4 linked regions of the Homo sapiens genome follow. Changing the gene in region 1 together with any one later gene gives a genetic interaction. Each region holds a gene or a part of one and is shown in the gene's direction. Other genes may lie near its edges.

Region 1 (4,535 bases):
TATTTGTGTGTATGTATGTGTGTTTGTGTATATAATTTATTTCTTGGAGCAAGGCTGAACTTCAAGGTATATTTTTTTGAAGATTTTTTTTTTCCTATAAAGGAGAGTTTTTATAACTAAGTAATTTTGTAACTAAATGGAAAGAGCCCTGGACTGGAACTCAAGAGACTTGGACTCTAGTCCTTTCTCTGATCTTTTTCTTGTGACCGTGGGCAAGACACTTAACCAGTCAGTTTCTATTTTTCTCACCTAAACTATGTGGAATTGGATTAGATGACCCCTAAAGATCCTTCCAACTCTAAATGTAGCTAATTCACTAGATACAAATGTGCTGATGGTAATTGTGGTGACTCTTTCTAGGAACATGAATATTCTTTTTTTATTACATATATTTTTCTTTTTTTTTTTTTTTTTTTTGAGACGGAGTCTAGCTCTGTTGCACAGGCTGGGGTGCAGTGGCGCCATCTTGGCTCACTGCAGTCTCCGCCTCCTGCGTTCAAGCGATTCTTCTGCCTCAGCCTCCCGAGTAGCTGGGACTACAGCTGCGCGCCACCATACGCGGCTAATATTTTTGTATTTTTAGTAGAGATGGGATTTCACCATATTGGCCAGGCTGGTCTTGAACTCCTGACCTCAGGCGATCCGCCCACCTCAGCCTCCCAAAGTGCTGGGATTACAGGCGTGAGCCACCGCGCCTGGCCTATTTTTCTTTTTTAATATTCTTTTTTCAAAAAGTTGTATTGATTATTGTCCGTTACCATCTGGGGCTATCAGCATTGTTTTCTATATATTCAGTTAATTCTCACCAAAAGTCAGTTCATACCTTTCAGTTTAGTAGTAATAGGTAAATAGTTGAGATTGATAGATTCAGACTTCTAAAGGGTTCCTTTGTAATGCTTTGATTTTGCTATATTCAATTCAGAATGCATTTACAAGTGTTTGTTGTGTACCCAGCCTTGTACTACATTCTTTATCTTTTAAGGCGTGAAAGATTTGGTTTCTGTTATTTCTGACAATTGTCTTTTTTTTTTTTTTTTTTTTTTTTGAGATGGAGCCTCGCCCTGTCGCCCAGGCTGGAGTACAGTGGCGCCATCTCCGCTCACTGTAAACTCCACCTCCTGGGTTCAAGCGATTCTACTACCTCAGCCTACCGAGTAGCTGGGACTACAGATGTGTGCCACCACGTCCAGCTAATATTTTTGTATTTTTAGTAGAGATGGGATTTCACCATGTTGGCCAGGATGGTCTCAATCTCTTGACCTCATGATCTGCCCACCTCGGCCTGCCAAAGTGCTGGGATTACAGGCGAGAGCCACTATGCCTGGCCCAATTGTCATATTTTTACAAAAATGTGTTCTGGAGGAAGTTAATTCAAAATATCTATGGAGAGTAAATTTGATAATTAACCTCTTCAAGGAAATTATTATATCAAGTGTGATTTTCTCTACTTGTCTGATGTTAATGGTTATTTGCATCCAAAGTTTAAGAATTTTTATTTTATTCTAGTTTTTAATTAGATTTTTGTTTTTTTAGAGGCAGGGTGTCACTCCATTGCCCAGGGCTGGAGTATAGTGGCATGATCACAGCTCACTGCAGCTTTAACTTCCTGAGCTCAAGGGATTTTCGTCCTTCAGCTTCCCAAATAGCTGGAACTGCAGGTGTGTGCCACCACGTCCAGCAAATTTTTCACTTTTGTAGAGATGGGCTGGTCTCGAACTCCTGGCCTCAAGGGATCCTCCTGCCTCAGCCTCCCAAAGTGCTGGGATTATAAGCATGAGCCACCATCCCAGCTAAGACTTTTCAGTAAGATTAAGCTATTGAGTTTCATGAACTTCGTGTTTGTTTTTTAAGATAGGGTCTCTGTTGCCCAGGCTGGAGTGCAGTGGTACAATCTTGGCTCACTGCAGCCTCCACCTCCTGGGTTCAAGTGATCCTCCAGCCTCAGCCTTCCACATAGCTAGGATTAGAGGTATGTGTTACCACACCTGGCTGATTTTTGTGTTTTTAGTAGAGGCGGGGTTTTGACATGTTTGCCAGGCTGGTCTCAAACTCCTGGCCTCATGTGGTCTGCCCATCCCATCTTGGCCTCCCGAAGTACTGGGACCATGGACATGTGAACCACTGCATCTGGCCTTGGGAACTTTTTGACAAGTTTCTGACTCAAAGACATAATGTTCCTTCCCAAGGGTACTGCTTACAAGCACCGCTATCTCCTTTATAGCTTACACATGTCATTTAAAACTTAGTAGGATGGGCTGTGTTCTATGCATTTACACTTCTTGGTCTAAGGCAGGAAAGCTCCCTTCTCCTTTGTACTCTTATCATTTGATATTGTCTTTTTAAAATTGACTATGGAAGCATGTGATTAGCAGTCATAGTACAGAGATAATGAGAGATGAGAAACTTAATTCCATTTTACTTCAGGTTTAGCCGTATAAATGCTTTTCTTTTTCTTATTTAAGGTTCTCTTAGAAGCACAAGATATGGCAGTGAGAGACCATAACGTGGAATTCAGGTCCAATTTATATATAGGTAAGATTTTTAATATTCTTAGCATTAGAAAATGTCTTCAGTAGTAATGCCATGTTTTTTATCTAACAACAGTCTTTAATATCTAACTCCTCAGGACTTGGTTTGTCAGTGAAAATTGCTAGTAATGGCTTATTCTTCAGCTGTATGCATGCCAATTTTAATTTAGTGTAAATGACAATAACTGTACTGTTTTACCTGTTCTGTAGTGAGACTGAGATCATAAAGCCAATTGCTAATAATTATTAAATAATAGATACCAAGACTGGGGTACATAGAGTGGTACTTTAATTGTAATATTATAACAAATAGTATTAACACATTTTTAAAGTTGTTTGTCAACCAGAAGGAGGTAAATAATCACAGGTGCATTTAAAAAATTTTTATTTATAATGTGCCAAGCCAGATGCCTAATCCATAAAGGTGTCCTGTAATTTAACCTTACAGTTATCAAAATGGAAGGTCTGTTGAATTGTAAAAGCCAAGGGGCCTTGGAAGGCTCAGATGACCCAGATGTGTTTGTTCCACTTTGTTACTACATCCTGAAGCATTAGCTCTGCTTTTACATGCTTGTTCCACATCAAATTAAATTAATATAAGTTAAAATGCTTTGGGAAGCATGATGTGCTGTACAAATGTAAGGAATCTTTTTGCTGCAGACCGTCACACAGTTATTTTCTGAGAAGGAGATTAATGTTTATTACAAAGCTCTCTTGCCTCCTCCCAACACCATGGGAAAGTGGAGCAGTGGTTGGAGTTATTATTTTTTTCTCACTACAGCAATTACTCCTAACCTCAGCAGTTTTATATTCAAACAAAGATGTTGATGTTGAAGCAAAGTTTTCTCAATCTGCCATACCAACATATAAAGATTATTTTACTTAAAGCTATTTTAAATTCAAGATATGGGGAACATCTACTCTCCAGATGGAGGAGAAAGGGCTGAATCAATACAGGGGGAATTAGTTGTATTTTATAATTTTTCAACAATTAGAGTAAAAAAAAAATTATCTAAATTCTACTTTTTCACATAGCCTCTGTGCTGATTAGGTTAAAATCTCAGTTCAACTCACCTGGCATTGATGTTGGCCACCACACCTCCTGAAATTCAAATTAGTTGATTTTCAGTTGAAATGCTTTATTTTAAAGCTGAATCTTGTATAATTTTATTTTGATACATGCAAAGATGCAAAGGGAAATCAAAATGGCAACCCAAGATGCAGGGCCATGGTAGTTAATCATAAGCATTTTCTTCTGGGAGCATTATGAATAAATAATGTTGGAGAGGTCTTGGAACCATTGGAAGGGATGAGGAGCAAGACCATTTGCTTAAAACCTCTTGGTGATTCTTCCTGCTCTGTGACTCTGAATATCAAATCAAATTTAATTAATTTTATGCAGTTTCACAGGGATGTGAGATTCGTAGCTGATAGACTTTCTAATGGACTTCAGATACAAATGAAATATGATTTGTCTTTAAGCCTTTTTCAATAACTGTCTTTAAATCCTTTTCAATAATTATAGTAAAGAGAGATAGGATAAAGAGCTTAATCCTGTTGCTCCAAATGAAGGAGCAGGGTCCACTGTTGCCATTAAGCAAAAACATGCTTAACCAATCCTACATAAATGACCCTTTATTTTATCTTTTTTTATTTTTGGAGATGAGGACTTGCTCTGTCACTCAGGCTGGAGTGCAGTGGTGTGATCACAGCTCACTGCAGCTTTGAACTCCTGGTCTCAAGTCATCTTCCTGCCCCAGCCTCCTGAGTAGCTGGGACTAGAGGCACGTACGAGCACACTTAGCTAATTTTAAAATTTTTTGTAGAGACAGAGGTCTCGCTTAGATGCCTATGCTGGTCTTGAACTCCTGGCTTCAAGCAGTCCTACTGCCTCAGCCTCCCAAAGTGTTAGGATTACGGGCATAAGCCACATTGTCTGACCCTTTAATCCAGAGTTCTTTTGCACATTTCTGCTGAAAAATCTCTGCCTTACCTGTACTGTCTTTT
Region 2 (4,535 bases), on another chromosome or scaffold:
CAGCATTGTTTCTAAAATTTGATTTAAAATTTTTTTCTGATTACTGAAGTAGCATTTTTAATTTTACCAAGAAAAACAGCAGAAATTATATTCTTGCTAACACTTGCAGGCAAACAGTTTTGCTGTGGTACCCTGAACCCTGCCTGTTGCAAAGCTTCATTTTCATATTGGGATGCCTTGCAGTTCCTCCAGGAACAAAGGGAGATAAGCAGCTTTGTGAGAAACTGCACTAGGTCATTTCTCATTCTCCAGTGTTTCAGTTGAGCGTGGGACTTTCCACTTGCCCTCCCTTTGGGCTATAAAGTCGCTGAGCTGTAGTTAGAATTGACTCCTTAGCAGCGGAGCAGCCCACGGCCTGCCTGTACTGCCTGTTACATGGGCCCTCTGGTTTGATGTCATCAGTGGAAATAGAAGCAGGGAACTGACATTCTGATTTGGCATTTGCTGTAAGTAAATTTATTTGGCTCATTTTCTCCTTACTGACCAAAGCTATGGAAATGAGGCCCTGTTAGCCACTGCGCTTTTGCTGAGGGATGGCTTGACTGCCAAAAATAACCTTGAGTGTGTATCAGGTCTCTTCTGCCTTCACCAAATTCTTAAGATGGCAACTTTTTACTCCTAGGGCCTTCTTTCTACTTTGTGTGGAATTTTAATTGGAACTGTGTTACATTATCCTTTTTTTTAATAGTCGGTACTATGATCCACCTAGTATTGTTAATTAAAAGTCACATTGTACCGGTTTTGAAATTTTAAATATTAAGTTTCTTCTTAGGCTTCTCTACATTTACTAATTTCAGAAGAACCAACTAGCAAAAGTGTGTGTGTGTGTGTGTGTGTGTGTGTGTGTGTGTGTACACTTTATTATGAGAAATTTACATATTCACAAAGGCAGATTATTATTATTATTCTTGGGTACTCATTATCCAGATTCAACAGTTGTCAGCCTTGTTTCATTGATTAGTTTTCTTTCCTTTTGGGTGAAGTAGAGAAACAACATTTTATATGGAAATGTGATTTAATTTCTATTGAAGTTGCTGTCTGGTTTCCTTTTATATGCTCCCAGTGATTGATTTTTTTTAGTATTGGGGAAGATACCTGCTCTCTCACTGAGCTGCTGTAGATAAAGACTTCAAACAACAAAGTCCTGAGAATGAGTGTTGGGCAAACATCTAGGCCCTTAAAGGAAAATATTCTTTCTCTAGTACCTACTGTCTCCTTGACAGAAGAATGTAGAGGATAAATGTAGAAACTGAAATGAATCAGATTAAGACACATTGGTGTTAGTGTGTTATCACTGAATAAGTAACAGGAGTTGAAAATGAGAGCCCTTGGGTGAGAATTGAATCATCCCGAAGAATAGAGTTGAGTTGAAGTGGATTGGGGTATTTAAAGGTCACTTAGAAACTATAAAGTCTTTACTAAACAGATAAATTGAATGATTCTCATATATATGGATGTCAAATGAGTGATCAAAAGATAAAGGTTGCAGGTTTTATTTAATTTTGAGAAAGTTGGAACATGAATCGTCCTCTTAGGATTGAGATTTACTGCAAGAGCCTCAGAATTTATTCATTCAGCACAAATTATTGTCTCAGTGCTATTAACTAGAAATAGTATGAACAATATATGCAATGTAAAATTTTTTTAGTAACCTTAAGAAATGGATGAAATTAATTTTATTGTATATTTTTATCCAAAATATCATTTTAACACGCAATCAAATAAAAATAGGAGATCATTTATATTCTTTTTCTTCATACTAAATTTCAGTTTGGACCAGACACATATGACTGGTGGCTGTCACTGAATATCATTGGTATGAAATGTGCAGGATTTCCAGTGGTGCCTTGATGAATGTCAGTAATTTCAGCACAGAATTTTATTTTGAGTAAATTGGTTTATAATATCAAAATGGGATTGGAGTAATTAAAACTGTAGTATCATGCTTTATTGAACTTTTTCTGGTAATAAAAATATATTTTTACCCACTTTCCCATTTCTAGAGGAGCTTTTAATTGAAAATTAACAAAAGGAAGAAAAGACATAGTAAGGAACTATAAAGCTAAAGAACTTCAGTTCAAAACTTAAGTTGGTCATATTTTCAGTAAAAACTACGCACTATTAGTCCAGCAATCTGAATCTCTTCAATCTGTATTTATTCTCTCTTTGCTTAGCGGGAAATCAATTCAGCCAATCTGAGTTGCCTGCTACATAATTTCTCCTTCTCTGTAGCTCAGCCCCAGACGAAGTGATTGGCAAATGAGCAAATCCATATGTTTTAACAACTTGTCCTCTGATTATAAAGTCAATAACAGAATAGGTTTTCTGTCCGGATTTATTGTTCCTAAATTAGAACTAATGAATTAGGCTCTTTGTATATACCTGTTCTCCTGTATTTAGAATATGATAAAGGAAAAAAAGATTTTATACTCATTTGAATTTCTGTATCAGTTAACATCTTGGTATCTGTCATTTCCTCAAATGTGACATGGAAATGAATTCTGAAAAAATCACTGAATAATATCAGGCTCAATGGCTTGATAGACTTAAAACTAGTTTTGTTTAAATTTATAGTTTTAAAAGTAAATACCTAACTTGTTTTTTTCACTTTGTTTGCTAGTCGACAGCAAGAAATAGAAGAAAAACTCATCGAGGAAGAAACAGCACGAAGAGTAGAAGAATTGGTAGCAAAAAGGGTGGAGGAAGAACTGGAGAAAAGGAAGGATGAAATTGAACGAGAAGTTCTCCGAAGGGTGGAGGAAGCCAAACGCATCATGGAAAAGCAGTTGCTCGAAGAACTCGAGCGACAGAGACAAGCTGAGCTTGCCGCACAAAAAGCTAGAGAGGTAACGCTCGGTCGTTTGGAAAGTAGAGACAGTCCATGGCAAAACTTTCAGTGTTGGGTTCTGCCTCCTGCTCAGTTCAGAAAGAGATGGAATACAGACTATCTAATTCCTTTCTCGTCTAAACTTAACATTGCTGCGAAAGTTAATTTTTTAGCCTATTCAGAAGTGCTGACTGATAACTTAAAAGTTGGAAGCTTTTATAAAACATATTCAAGGATACTTTTTGATTTAATGGAACTGGCTATTTGAGAAGTGTTTGAAACTTTTGCCATGGCTGCAGGACTTACATTCTTTTTTGGGAGGACGGTGGGGAGACAGGGAGTGGTAAAGGGAAAAGGTTAAAAATCCACCTGTGGTTGTATATTCTTCTATTCTGTCACTCTGTTACCTAGACTGTGAGAGGCTTTTGCCTTCAGTCAGATTAAAAAGAGCAGGGCCTAACATTGAGTGATAGCACCTGCTTTGATAAATAGGTTTTCTCACTCTTCTTTTTTTCCTTCTTTTATCCCTCACTCCCTCCCCTAAACCCTGCTTCAGCACAATGGACTAATTCTAGCATTCTGATCATAAGGCCCTCCATTTTCCTAATGTGTTTCAAGGAATCTTTTTAGGAAAAATATCCAGATTATTCATCCACTTTTTTTAGTATCTACTAACAACTCCTTTTTTTCTCTAGAGAGTTATGAAGGAACAGGTTGTCCTTGTCTGGAGTCAAGCTAAACACATGATTTGTTTTATCAGCAGCTGGAGCAGAAGTTGAAAATGTCTTTCTGTGAGACAGTAATTTGCTACTGAAGCTTTATGGCTTGTTTGCACTGATTACTCCAGGATCCAAAAACTTGGTGAAAGTCACTGAAACACTCAAGGCAAATTACTTTACAGCCCTGAGTGTCTGTCACCATAGTTTGCATAATGAATATGAATCCCATTGGTGTGTGATGTAGGAAATCCTGTAGTTGTATTTTCTTGAACTGAAATATTTGACTCAAAATAATTAAGACTCATTGTCATTTTTCATCTTGGCATTATTGTGGACAAGTTGACATATTAAATCTCTTTGCTTTCTGGTAAGCTTAGCTTTTAAAATGCATTTTCCCTTGTCCTGTCTTTAACTAGATATACATGCTTATATTTATAGTGGGTTTCACAGACTATAAAATTGAATGTATGAAATTTTTATTTATATCAGTGCTTTTAATAATGAAGATATTTTTGGAGTAATGGTGCTGTCTTGTAGCGAGTTATTAATCATAGTAAGATTTTTTTCTCTTCATTTGCTTTTTTTGTTTCATATTAACAATTTTTTTTTTACACGGACACAACCCTCTGACAGTCTTTCCAAATATTAAAATCATTTGAATATGTATGCTGTGATCTGAACACTGCTCAAGCCATCAAGCAGTCTTCATACAGTTTGCATTATAAAATCTCATTAAATTCTCCAAGAAAAAATAAGTTGAAGAATTTTATTTCCTGACCATGCATCCCCTGGATTTCTGAGTTTCAGTTCAGATTGTAGATGACAATATAAGCTGCCTTCCGAAATTGTCAACATCTGAATGTTAAGTCCATTTTCCCCATGGAAGAAGCCCGTAGTTCCATGAAGTATGGATTACCATTTGTATTTTTCACTAACAGTAAATGTATTTTTCTTATTAATTGTTTGCCTTAGGAATGATGAATTACATT
Region 3 (4,535 bases), on another chromosome or scaffold:
TTTTTTTGAGGCAAGGTCTCACTCCGTTGCCCAGGCTGGAGGGCAGTGGCTTGATCTTGGCTCACTGCAACCTCCACCTCCCAGGTTCAAGCAATTCTCATGCCTCAGCCTCCTGAGTAGCTGGGACTACAGGCGCCCGCCACCATGCCTGGCTAATTTTTTATTTTGTATTTTTAGTAGGGATGGGGTTTCGCCATGTTGGCCAGGCTGGTCTTGAACTCCTGGCCTCAAGTGATCTGTCCACCTTGGCCTCCCAAAGTGCTGCGATTACAGGTGTGAGCAACTGCACCTGGCCTTGCCCTGCCTTTTTAAATTAATTATTGTCATCTATTTTATTCTTCTGCCTTGTGTGGGAGAATAAAATCATCCTGTTTTGTTGTTTCTTTCTTCCATGAAACAGTCACTGAGTATCATTTATGTGCTGGGATCACTCCAGGTCTTGGCGAGTTAAATGAAAATGACATTGGCCCAGCTCAAGGGCCAAGGTGTGGGGTTTGGGCAGATGTGCACATTATTATAAAGTGATGTGGTGGCGAGACCACTTGTATTAATTTAGAATTTTACGTGTGTATATATATATGTGTGTGTATATATATATGTTTTAAAACTTTGTTTGGAATGCCTCAGAAAATGTTTTTTATTAACAGGAAAGAACTGACTTCCTCTGGTGGGCCAACAAAGTTTGAAATCCATATAGTGGCTCAGTTCGATAATCATAATTCTCAGGTCTGGCGAGTGAGTTGGAATATAACAGGAACGGTGCTAGCATCTTCAGGAGATGATGGGTGTGTAAGATTGTGGAAAGGTAAGAGTTCAGTGAAGGGGTAATTGTTGGTTTATATTTCTGCTCTGCAATTTTTACTTAAAATGTAAACTCTGAAATATTTTTTGAAAATGGTCTTTTACAGTTACTTTTAATGTCATATTAATTTATGTTATTTTGAACATCAGTTTACCTAGTTCATAGAAGTTAATGACTGAATTGTTTTTTAAGTTATGTGGAACAGAGCAGTTTTCAAAACTAAAGTAATTACAACAGAATATGCAATATCTCCAATAAAAAGATACCAGTTGTCATATATGTACCTTACATGACTGCTCTACAAACTCAGGCTAGGACTGTAGTGGCTCCTTTTTTATCAAATAAATTGCTTTAGACAATCCATCCTTAATAGGAGAAAATCCAGTATCTTCCCTGCTTCTTCTCTGCAGCTCCCATAAGTTAAGAGCCTTGGGGGCCCTGATTGTAAGTTTCTTCTAAGTGCCAGGCTGAGTGAGAAGGTCTGGTCAGTTGACACTGACTGTGGTCTCTGTAGCTTGGTTCTGCACTTCTCCTTGGATGATTATCCATTAGGCAGAGATGTCTGTGATTTGTGCACCACCATAGAATGGTGTCCCATACTTAGCATTCAGAATTATAGCTATCTTTGTTTATTTGCCATTTAGCAGTTATTGTTTCCCAAAGTGCAGTTTGGGTAAGCTTGAGGGCCTCCCATGTTCAATTTTGGGCTTTGGTAAAACCAGCCCAGACCTTCCTTTCCTCAGTGTAATTTGATTTTAGGGGCTTTGCTGTCCTTTTCTGCCTTTAGGCTTTATTCAGGACCACCTTGCCATGCTCCCCAGCAGGGTGCCTAACTTGATTTTCTTGGGCTCATTGTCTTCAGAGACCAATTTTTCATTCAAACTAATAAGGCCATTTTGGATAAGCCACTGAAGCTCCAAAGGTTTTGTTACCTACATCCATTTCAGAAGACATGATAGGTACCCTTATAACTTATACTTGCATAATTAAGAAGACAACTTCATTACCTTACATACATATGTAAGTGAAATTCATTATAATGAAGACTTTAATATTATAATGAAGATTTTAATATTAACTTCATAATGTGGTAGCTCAGAGAATTGTCTTTGCTAGTATCTGTAAGATGGGTGGTGAAAGCTTTATATTTTTAAAATTAGTGATACTTTGAAAACTTCTAAAAAGTTGTTAAAACTGAGATAATATGTCTTTCATTTAAAAAGTGTCTTTAATGTTTATCCTGAAAGAAATGTAGCTCATAGCCTCTGTCTCGTTTCTTTAATTGTAGTTTAAGGACATGGGTACAGATTTGTGCCCTTAGGCATTGGTATTAATCATGTTAATGTATTTGATTATTTTCCTTTCAGCTAATTATATGGACAATTGGAAGTGTACTGGTATTTTGAAAGGTAATGGGAGCCCAGTCAATGGGAGTTCTCAGCAGGGAACCTCAAATCCTTCCCTAGGTTCAACTATTCCAAGTCTTCAGAATTCATTAAATGGATCTTCTGCTGGCAGGTAGGCTGCTTCATGGGAAAACTGGAAATCATCTTTGTTTTAAATCATTCTGGTAGCCATACTTAAGGTGGATTATTTCATGGATTATAAGATGGAGTGGAAATGTTCACATGTGCTTGTATTAGCATTTAAGAATTCATTTTGTTAGCTATGTATTTGGCTTACTTGGTCATAATATTTGCAGGTAGGTTATGAAGTCATTACATTATATTCTGAAGCTTTAGTGGTCTATTGGTAGAAATGTTTACAGGTTTAAGATTCAACTTTGCTTCCGCAACAGTGAGAGGAAGGTTATCTGGTTTAATGGTGAGAGTTTTAGTCCAAATGAACATTAGTGTTTTTTAGTGCTTGTAGTGTGGTCTTTGCATTAGGTCAAACTGAAATTTTAAATAAAATACATTTCTTAAGGCTTTCTAGAAGAGGGTACATTAAGTTATTTGGCTTTTGTGTTTAAAACTTTAATAGAAATAAGAGGAAATAATAAAACACGAGATTGATTTTTAGAATATTTAGCATATGTTACATTCTTGTATATCATAATAAGGAATATTTGATGTCATCTAGAGTCTGTTTCCATGTTCAAATTTTAAATATGTGAATTTGTAAGATAAAATTATTTTAATATGCCTTTGTGAATAATTTGGAATAGAATTCAGGAAACGTCAAAACACAGCCTAATGAATTGTCCTGTGGTTATATCCTCTTGTTATCCTATATAAAAGAAGAAAATTGTATTTAAAATTTCAACTATTTTTATATTGTTATGTTTTCATAAAGAAGTTCTGCTTTTGATTTTGAGGTTTTAAGTACATGCATCAAAACAATTTCAGGTTACCGTGGAAGATACCAGATTATAAAGATTATTTCATGAAACAAATAATATTAGAGTTGATTTTTTAAAGTCTGGTTTTTGGTCACTGCCTGTACTGCATATTTTCTTTTGTAAATAGCTTCTATTTTTTGATCTGTATTCTTATTGTGCCAATAACCATCTGTGTTAGATCTGTGATGCATTTTCCCTTTTCCATTTGTATTATGTCCTTTAACAGAAAGCACAGCTGAGTACAAGCTAACTGGAGTAACTTTGCTGTTTTGCTGCTTGTTGCATGCACACAGGAATGGAAAGCGAGCTCCTTTTCCCCTTCCCCAGCGCCGTTTGACCTCTCCCAAGATACACCAGCAGCCTGCTTACTACTAAACGCAATCCAAAAGGCCTTTAAAAATACAGTGTATATTTTTTGTACTAGTCAGTTTATTGACACTATTTGAAACTTTTGAAATATAAACGGAGAGGCTTTCTGTTGAGACATTGTCACCAAAACAATTTTTTGAAATGTTCCTGAAACTAATTTGGGTTTAAAGATTAAAAGGGTTGTTACCATTCTTATCTGAGTAGTTGGGAGGAGGGGAATACCACTTTAGTTCATTTGGAAAATATAGACATATTTCTTTTGCTTTCTTAAAACAGCTTAAAATGATGAACTTTTATAATTTTAATTTGAAGATTGAATAAATATTTTTTATAAAGATTGTTTTGAGTGCTGATTTGTTTACTTTTTGTAGATTTGCTTTATCCATGATATTCAGTACAACTCTGTCATTTCTTTGTAATATTTAAAAAATATTAGTAAAGGAGTGAATTAATAAAGTAGTAATAGTAAAATGAAAGGAACTTGACTGTACAGTTTGTAGCCAGGTTAAGCATTTGGTATTGTTTCATTTACAATTTGGGACTAAGATGGAAACACTTTTTTTATAAGTTTTTAATTCATAGTCACTAAAGAGATAAATGTTTCTTATATACATTTGTGTATTTTTATGGTGTTATTTATTCCATGGCTTAGCTTCCTTCAAATCAAAATTTGGACACACACTATTAAGAGAAGCCATTAAAATTTTACTAAAATTGTGCATGTAAATTAATTGTCAGCATTCCATGTCTCAAGATTTTCTTAATTTAGTTCGCTGTTTAAATTAATTCATGTCCTGTAAAGTTCTGACCTTGATAACAAAGCTATAAATATTTAAGTTTGCTAATATGCGTAAGTATTATCGGTAAGTTACAAGATGGAAGAAGAATAACAGTAGGGCACAGTCATTCTGTGAATCCTTTTACTTATCAAAATTTGGTAGCTATTCTAAGGCTTTTGCAGAAAAATAAGTGTTCAATGTTTGTAGTTCTTCAAAAGCATGTTGCAGTAGCCAGCCATACTAT
Region 4 (4,975 bases), on another chromosome or scaffold:
CGTTTTGGGGTGATGGAAGTTTTCTATAAGTGGATTATGGTGATGGCTACACAACAGTATAAATTAAAGGTCATCCAAATGTGTACTTACAATGTTTGAATTGTATGACATGTAAATTATCTCATTAAATCTGTATTTTAAAAAAAGAACTGTGCTGTGAAGTTTGACATATTTTAAAGTAGGATGTCTTAGCCGGGCATGGTGTTGCATGCCTGTAGTCCTAGCTACTCAGGAAGTTGAGGCTAGAAGATTGCTCGACCTCAGGAGTTCAAGGCTGCAGTAAGCTATGGTCATGCCACTGCACTCCAGCCTGGGCAACAGAGCAAAGACCTGGTCTTTATAAAAATTAAAAACCGGCCGGGCACAGTGGCTCACACCTCTAATCCCAGAACTTTGGGAGGCTGAGGTGGGTGGATCACTTGAGGTTAGGAGTTCGAGACCAGCCTGGCCAACATGGTGAAACCCTGTCTCTACTAAAAATAAAAACATTAGCTGGGCATGGTGGCACACACCTGTAGTCCCAGCTACTTGGGAGGCTGAGGCAGGAGAATCGCTTGAACCTGGGAGGTGGAGGTTGCAGTGAGCCCAGATCGCGCCACTGCCCTCCAGCCTGGAGACACAGCCAGACTCCATCTCAACAATGACATCAAAAAAAGGCCGGGCACGGTGGCTCACGCCGGTAATCTCAGCACTTTGGGAGGCCAAGGCGGGCGGATCACGAGGTCAGGAGTTTGAGACCAGCCTGGCCAAGATGGTGAAACCCCATCTCTACTAAAAATACAAAAATTAGCTGGGCGTGGTGGCGGGCGCCTGTAATCCCAGCTACTTGGGAGGCTGAGGCAGGAAAATTGCTTGAACCCGGGAGGCGGAAGGTGCAGTGAGCTGAGATCACACCACTGCATTCCAGCCCGGGCGACAGTGCGAGACTCCGTCTCAAAAAAAACAAAAAAAATCTAAAACTCAAACTTCTGAATAACAATTTCCTCCTAGCAAGAAGGGACTCAGTAAGATAAGAAGCGCTGCTTGGCTACTTTGCAAATGTCTGGCTTAAGATGGCTGGTTTTTTGTATCTGCCTCTGCATTTAACCTGGTCCATCTCGCGGGTCACATAGCCTCTACAAAATGAGAAGGGGTTCAATACCGTTAACTCCGGGCCTGGGTAAAAGACTCAAGTCCTGACCCCATCATACTCCAACCAATACATACCCCGCCTGCGCTGTCTGCGCCTGGGTCTCTTCAACCGCAGTGAGCGGTCGCACGGCTCCACATCAGGGTCGCCCTGAGGCTCAGCCTTCCCCGGCCCCATTCCGAGTGCGCACAGGACTGAACGAGCACGCCCGGTCCCTGCTCCGGAGCGGAGGACACGACGCGGACCCGCACGGTGCACCGCAGTGACCTGAGGAAGGAGCGACGGGCGCTCGCGCCAAAGGCGTCCGAGTGCCTGGTAAACTGTAAAGCGCGGTCCTGCGTGAGTTGCTATGGCTACAGCTGCGCCAGGCGGACGGCCTGCAGGACCGAGGTGCAGCTGGGACGAGCGGAAAGCTCTGCGCGTGGGCGGGGAGCCCGGAGCCTCGCCGGGGCAATGTCATCTAGGTGCTCGGCGCTCCACTGATCCGGCCCCCGGGGGTGGGCGGGCACGTTTGCCTCGGATGGTCTAACAGGCGTCGGGGAGAGCCAATGGTGTGGCTTCATGGCTCCACCCCCTTCCATTCGATTGGCCGGCGCCGAAAAGCCGGGCGTGAGCGGCCGCAGTTTCTGGAGGGAGCCGCTGCGGGTCTTTCCCTCACTCGTCCTCCGCGCGTCGCCGCTCTTCGGTTCTGCTCTGTCCGCCGCCATGGCCCAGTGAGTGACTCGCCAGGGGCAGCCCGGCTCGGCCTCAGCGGGCGGGGAACTCTTTGGGGGTCGAGATCTCCCTCGTTCTCTCCGACGCCTCCCACCCTGGGGGTCGCCTGAGCTCACTTGGGGCTCTGTGACCCTGGCCCTACGGCGTCTCGGGCCCAGAGCTCCTTCCCTGCGGGCCCGGCCCCCTGCCCTCTCGGCCGCGCAGGCATGGGGCGGGGCGGGTCCCTTCGAGGGCCAGGGAGGAGGCGCGGCCAGGCCTCGCCGAGTCTGCAGGGACACCTGCGGGACGCGTGCCAGCGGGAGCCGGGCGCGAGGGCGGGGCTGGGGGCCGCCTGCCCGGCCGAGGCTCTGCAGCGTGCGCGCCCGGCTTCTGGGGGCCCGCGGGAGGCGCGGAGGAAAGTGCAGACTCCCAGTCACGGCCAAATGTGGAAGGACCGGACCCCTGGGTTGCAGCGCGTCGAGCGGTGCTGACTCTTTCCTTTGTTCTGTTTCTGCCTCTCTAGAGCTGACATCGCGCTGATCGGATTGGCCGTCATGGGCCAGAACTTAATTCTGAACATGAATGACCACGGCTTTGTGGTAAGCGGCGTGGGCGCGTTGTCTTCTCTCTGGTTCCCGGGCGCTTTAGCCGAGGCCGGCGATAGGTTTGGGAGCTTACGGGTCTCCTGGCCGTGCTTTGCTAATGTGCTCTGTTGCTGCTCGTGGCATTTTTGTATGGAAAGGAGAAGCACCCTGTAGGCGTGGGCGGGCCGATCCCGAACTTAGTCCTGCGGAGTGTGCCTGTGGGTCCGTGAGGTTCACAGCCCGAATGAACGAATTAGTGTCTTAAGTAGAGAAGAAGGGTGCGGGAGGAGAACCCTTGCTGGCTGTGTAGAGCTCTAACTTGATTGCCTGATGAGATCTGGGGAGAGTGAAAATGTTTCTTCTAAATGTTAAAGTGGCTTAGACGCCAGGATGATCAATAACAACAGATAGAGCCTGTTGAACCGGCCAGTTCCTGGATTTGATTTTGAGTCCTAACACGTTGGGTGTGGATTCTACCTGACACACCGGGGGTAGTTGGCCTTCGCCTCGGTTGTCCGCCGTTTTCATCCTACTGAGGTGACATAACTTTACAGTGAGCCTCCCACAGCTGGGGGAAGAAAAGGCAAAGGCAGGTCTGACCTCCCCAGAACTTGGGTTGAATGGAAAGGTCATTGTTACTTTGGCCACAGTCTGAAAGTCTTGTGTGTCCTGGATCTCCTACTCAGGACTTTTGTCCTTCTAGGTCTGTGCTTTTAATAGGACTGTCTCCAAAGTTGATGATTTCTTGGCCAATGAGGCAAAGGGAACCAAAGTGGTGGGTGCCCAGTCCCTGAAAGAGATGGTCTCCAAGCTGAAGAAGCCCCGGCGGATCATCCTCCTGGTGAAGGCTGGGCAAGCTGTGGATGATTTCATCGAGAAATTGGTGAGGCCAGCTGTGCTCTCAGCTGCTACCACGATAGCAGCTGTTTTTGGTTTCTTCCTTTAGTTCTCCTTCTTTTAACTCTAGAGATTTTTTTTTTTCAATTTCTGCTAAGCTCTGACCAAATGATTGCTTAACTGTTGCAGTGTTGGTTAACTTGATAAGCGCTTATGAAGTAACTTTGTCCTTTGGTGGTAGTAATTCTGAGAATACTAACAGACATTTCAATAAACATTAAGGCGGGGCACAGTGGCTCAGGCCTGTAATCCCAGCACTTTTTGGGAGGCTGGTTCAGATGGATCGTTTGAGCCCAGGAGTTCGAGACCAGCCTGGGCAACATGGCGAAACCCTGTCTCTACATAAAATTAAAAAATTAGCTGGGTATGGTGGTGTAAGCTTATGGTCCCAGCTACAAGCTTATGGTCCCAGGTTCGAGACCAGCCTGGCCAACATGGTGAAACCCCGTCTCTACTAAAAATATAAAAATTAGCTGGGCTTTGTGGCTCATGCCTGTAATCCCAGTTACTCGGGAGGCTGAGGAATGAGAATCACTTGAACCTGGGAGGTGGAGGTTACAGTGACCTGAGATTGTGCCACTCCAGTTTGGCGACAGAGCGAGACTCCGTCTCAAAAAAAAAATGAAAATAAAATCAAGATCTCCTTAGGGAATCCTAGGGAACTGGATGCTTATTTTTGTACCAAACAATTTGTTGGCTTTAGCAGGTATATCTTTTTTGGAAGAAAAAAGTAGGGGAACCAGTGGAAATAATGTGTTTAGATACCCAAAATAATTCTATAGTAACAACTCTGAAAAAACCCAGGCACTCCCATTTAGAAGAAATGTTTTGCTGTAAGCAGTGCAGTGATAGCTCAGGGGAGGCTGAGCATTCCTTTCTAGAGGAGTCGTGTCAACAGTGGGGTTGTTTCCACAGGGAGAAGGATTTGTAACCAGTATGCCACTGTTTTTCAATCAAATGACCTAGAAAGGAAGAACACTGAGTTTAAAAAAAGGACATACTAAATTTTTTGTGTGGCAAGCTGCCTGTAATCAGTTTCAGACAGAGAAAACTGAAAAATGGTGGATTATTCTTCAGTATAGGAAAATACTAAGTAATGTTAACTGGAGCCTTGTAGGGGGAAGATTGAATAATATAATGAAGCCCAGGCTGGGCGCGGTGGCTCACGCCTGTAATCCCAGCACTTTGGGAGGCAGAGGTGGGTGGATCATGAGGTCAGGAGATCGAGACCATCCTAGCTAACACGGTGAAACCCCATCTCTACTAAAAATACAAAAAATTAGCCAGGCGTGGTGGTGGGTGCCTGTAGTCCCAGCTACTTGGGAGGCTGAGGCAGGAGAGTGGCGTGAACCCGGGAGGCAGAGCTTGCAGTGAGCCGAGATCACACCACTGCATTGCAGCCTGGGTGACAGTGCGAGACTCCGTCTCAAATAAATAAATAAATTAATTAATTAATTAATAAAGTAATAATAATAATAAAGCCCAGCCTGGTTGGTGTGCTGTAGGTAGATATTCATGTTCAAGGCTCTGTCTCTTCCTGACCTCCGAACTGTTGTCATAAAATCATTCATTCATACACTAAACCATTTGATATGTATTTACTGAATCCCCACTCTCTTCTAGACACATTATAGTCAGTGTTTAATCTGTATACTTACTTAAAAATAGAAAT

The links. A genetic interaction does not mean that the proteins touch.
Region 2: changes in MRPL22 (region 1) and ARGLU1 together harm fitness more than expected from each alone (negative genetic interaction), as found in Homo sapiens cells (one large-scale study listed by BioGRID).
Region 3: changes in MRPL22 (region 1) and SEH1L together harm fitness more than expected from each alone (negative genetic interaction), as found in Homo sapiens cells (one large-scale study listed by BioGRID).
Region 4: changes in MRPL22 (region 1) and PGD together harm fitness more than expected from each alone (negative genetic interaction), as found in Homo sapiens cells (one large-scale study listed by BioGRID).

Annotation. Positions count from the first base shown.
Region 1 is NC_000005.10:154,957,518-154,962,052, forward strand, and holds part of MRPL22 (large ribosomal subunit protein uL22m), read left to right. Parts: intron 1-2,462; coding exon 2,463-2,532; intron 2,533-4,535.
Region 2 is NC_000013.11:106,557,743-106,562,277, reverse strand, and holds part of ARGLU1 (arginine and glutamate-rich protein 1), read left to right. Parts: intron 1-2,620; coding exon 2,621-2,846; intron 2,847-4,535. UniProt on the Homo sapiens protein: Dual function regulator of gene expression; regulator of transcription and modulator of alternative splicing. General coactivator of nuclear receptor-induced gene expression, including genes activated by the glucocorticoid receptor NR3C1.
Region 3 is NC_000018.10:12,981,871-12,986,405, forward strand, and holds part of SEH1L (nucleoporin SEH1), read left to right. Parts: intron 1-647; coding exon 648-805; intron 806-2,169; coding exon 2,170-2,320; intron 2,321-3,369; coding exon of another isoform or gene 3,370-3,382; exon of another isoform or gene 3,383-4,535. UniProt on the Homo sapiens protein: Component of the Nup107-160 subcomplex of the nuclear pore complex (NPC). The Nup107-160 subcomplex is required for the assembly of a functional NPC.
Region 4 is NC_000001.11:10,397,284-10,402,258, forward strand, and holds the start of PGD (6-phosphogluconate dehydrogenase, decarboxylating), read left to right. Parts: upstream 1-1,780; 5' UTR 1,781-1,834; coding exon 1,835-1,842; exon of another isoform or gene 1,843-2,047; intron 2,048-2,345; coding exon 2,346-2,421; intron 2,422-3,109; coding exon 3,110-3,289; intron 3,290-4,975. UniProt on the Homo sapiens protein: Catalyzes the oxidative decarboxylation of 6-phosphogluconate to ribulose 5-phosphate and CO(2), with concomitant reduction of NADP to NADPH.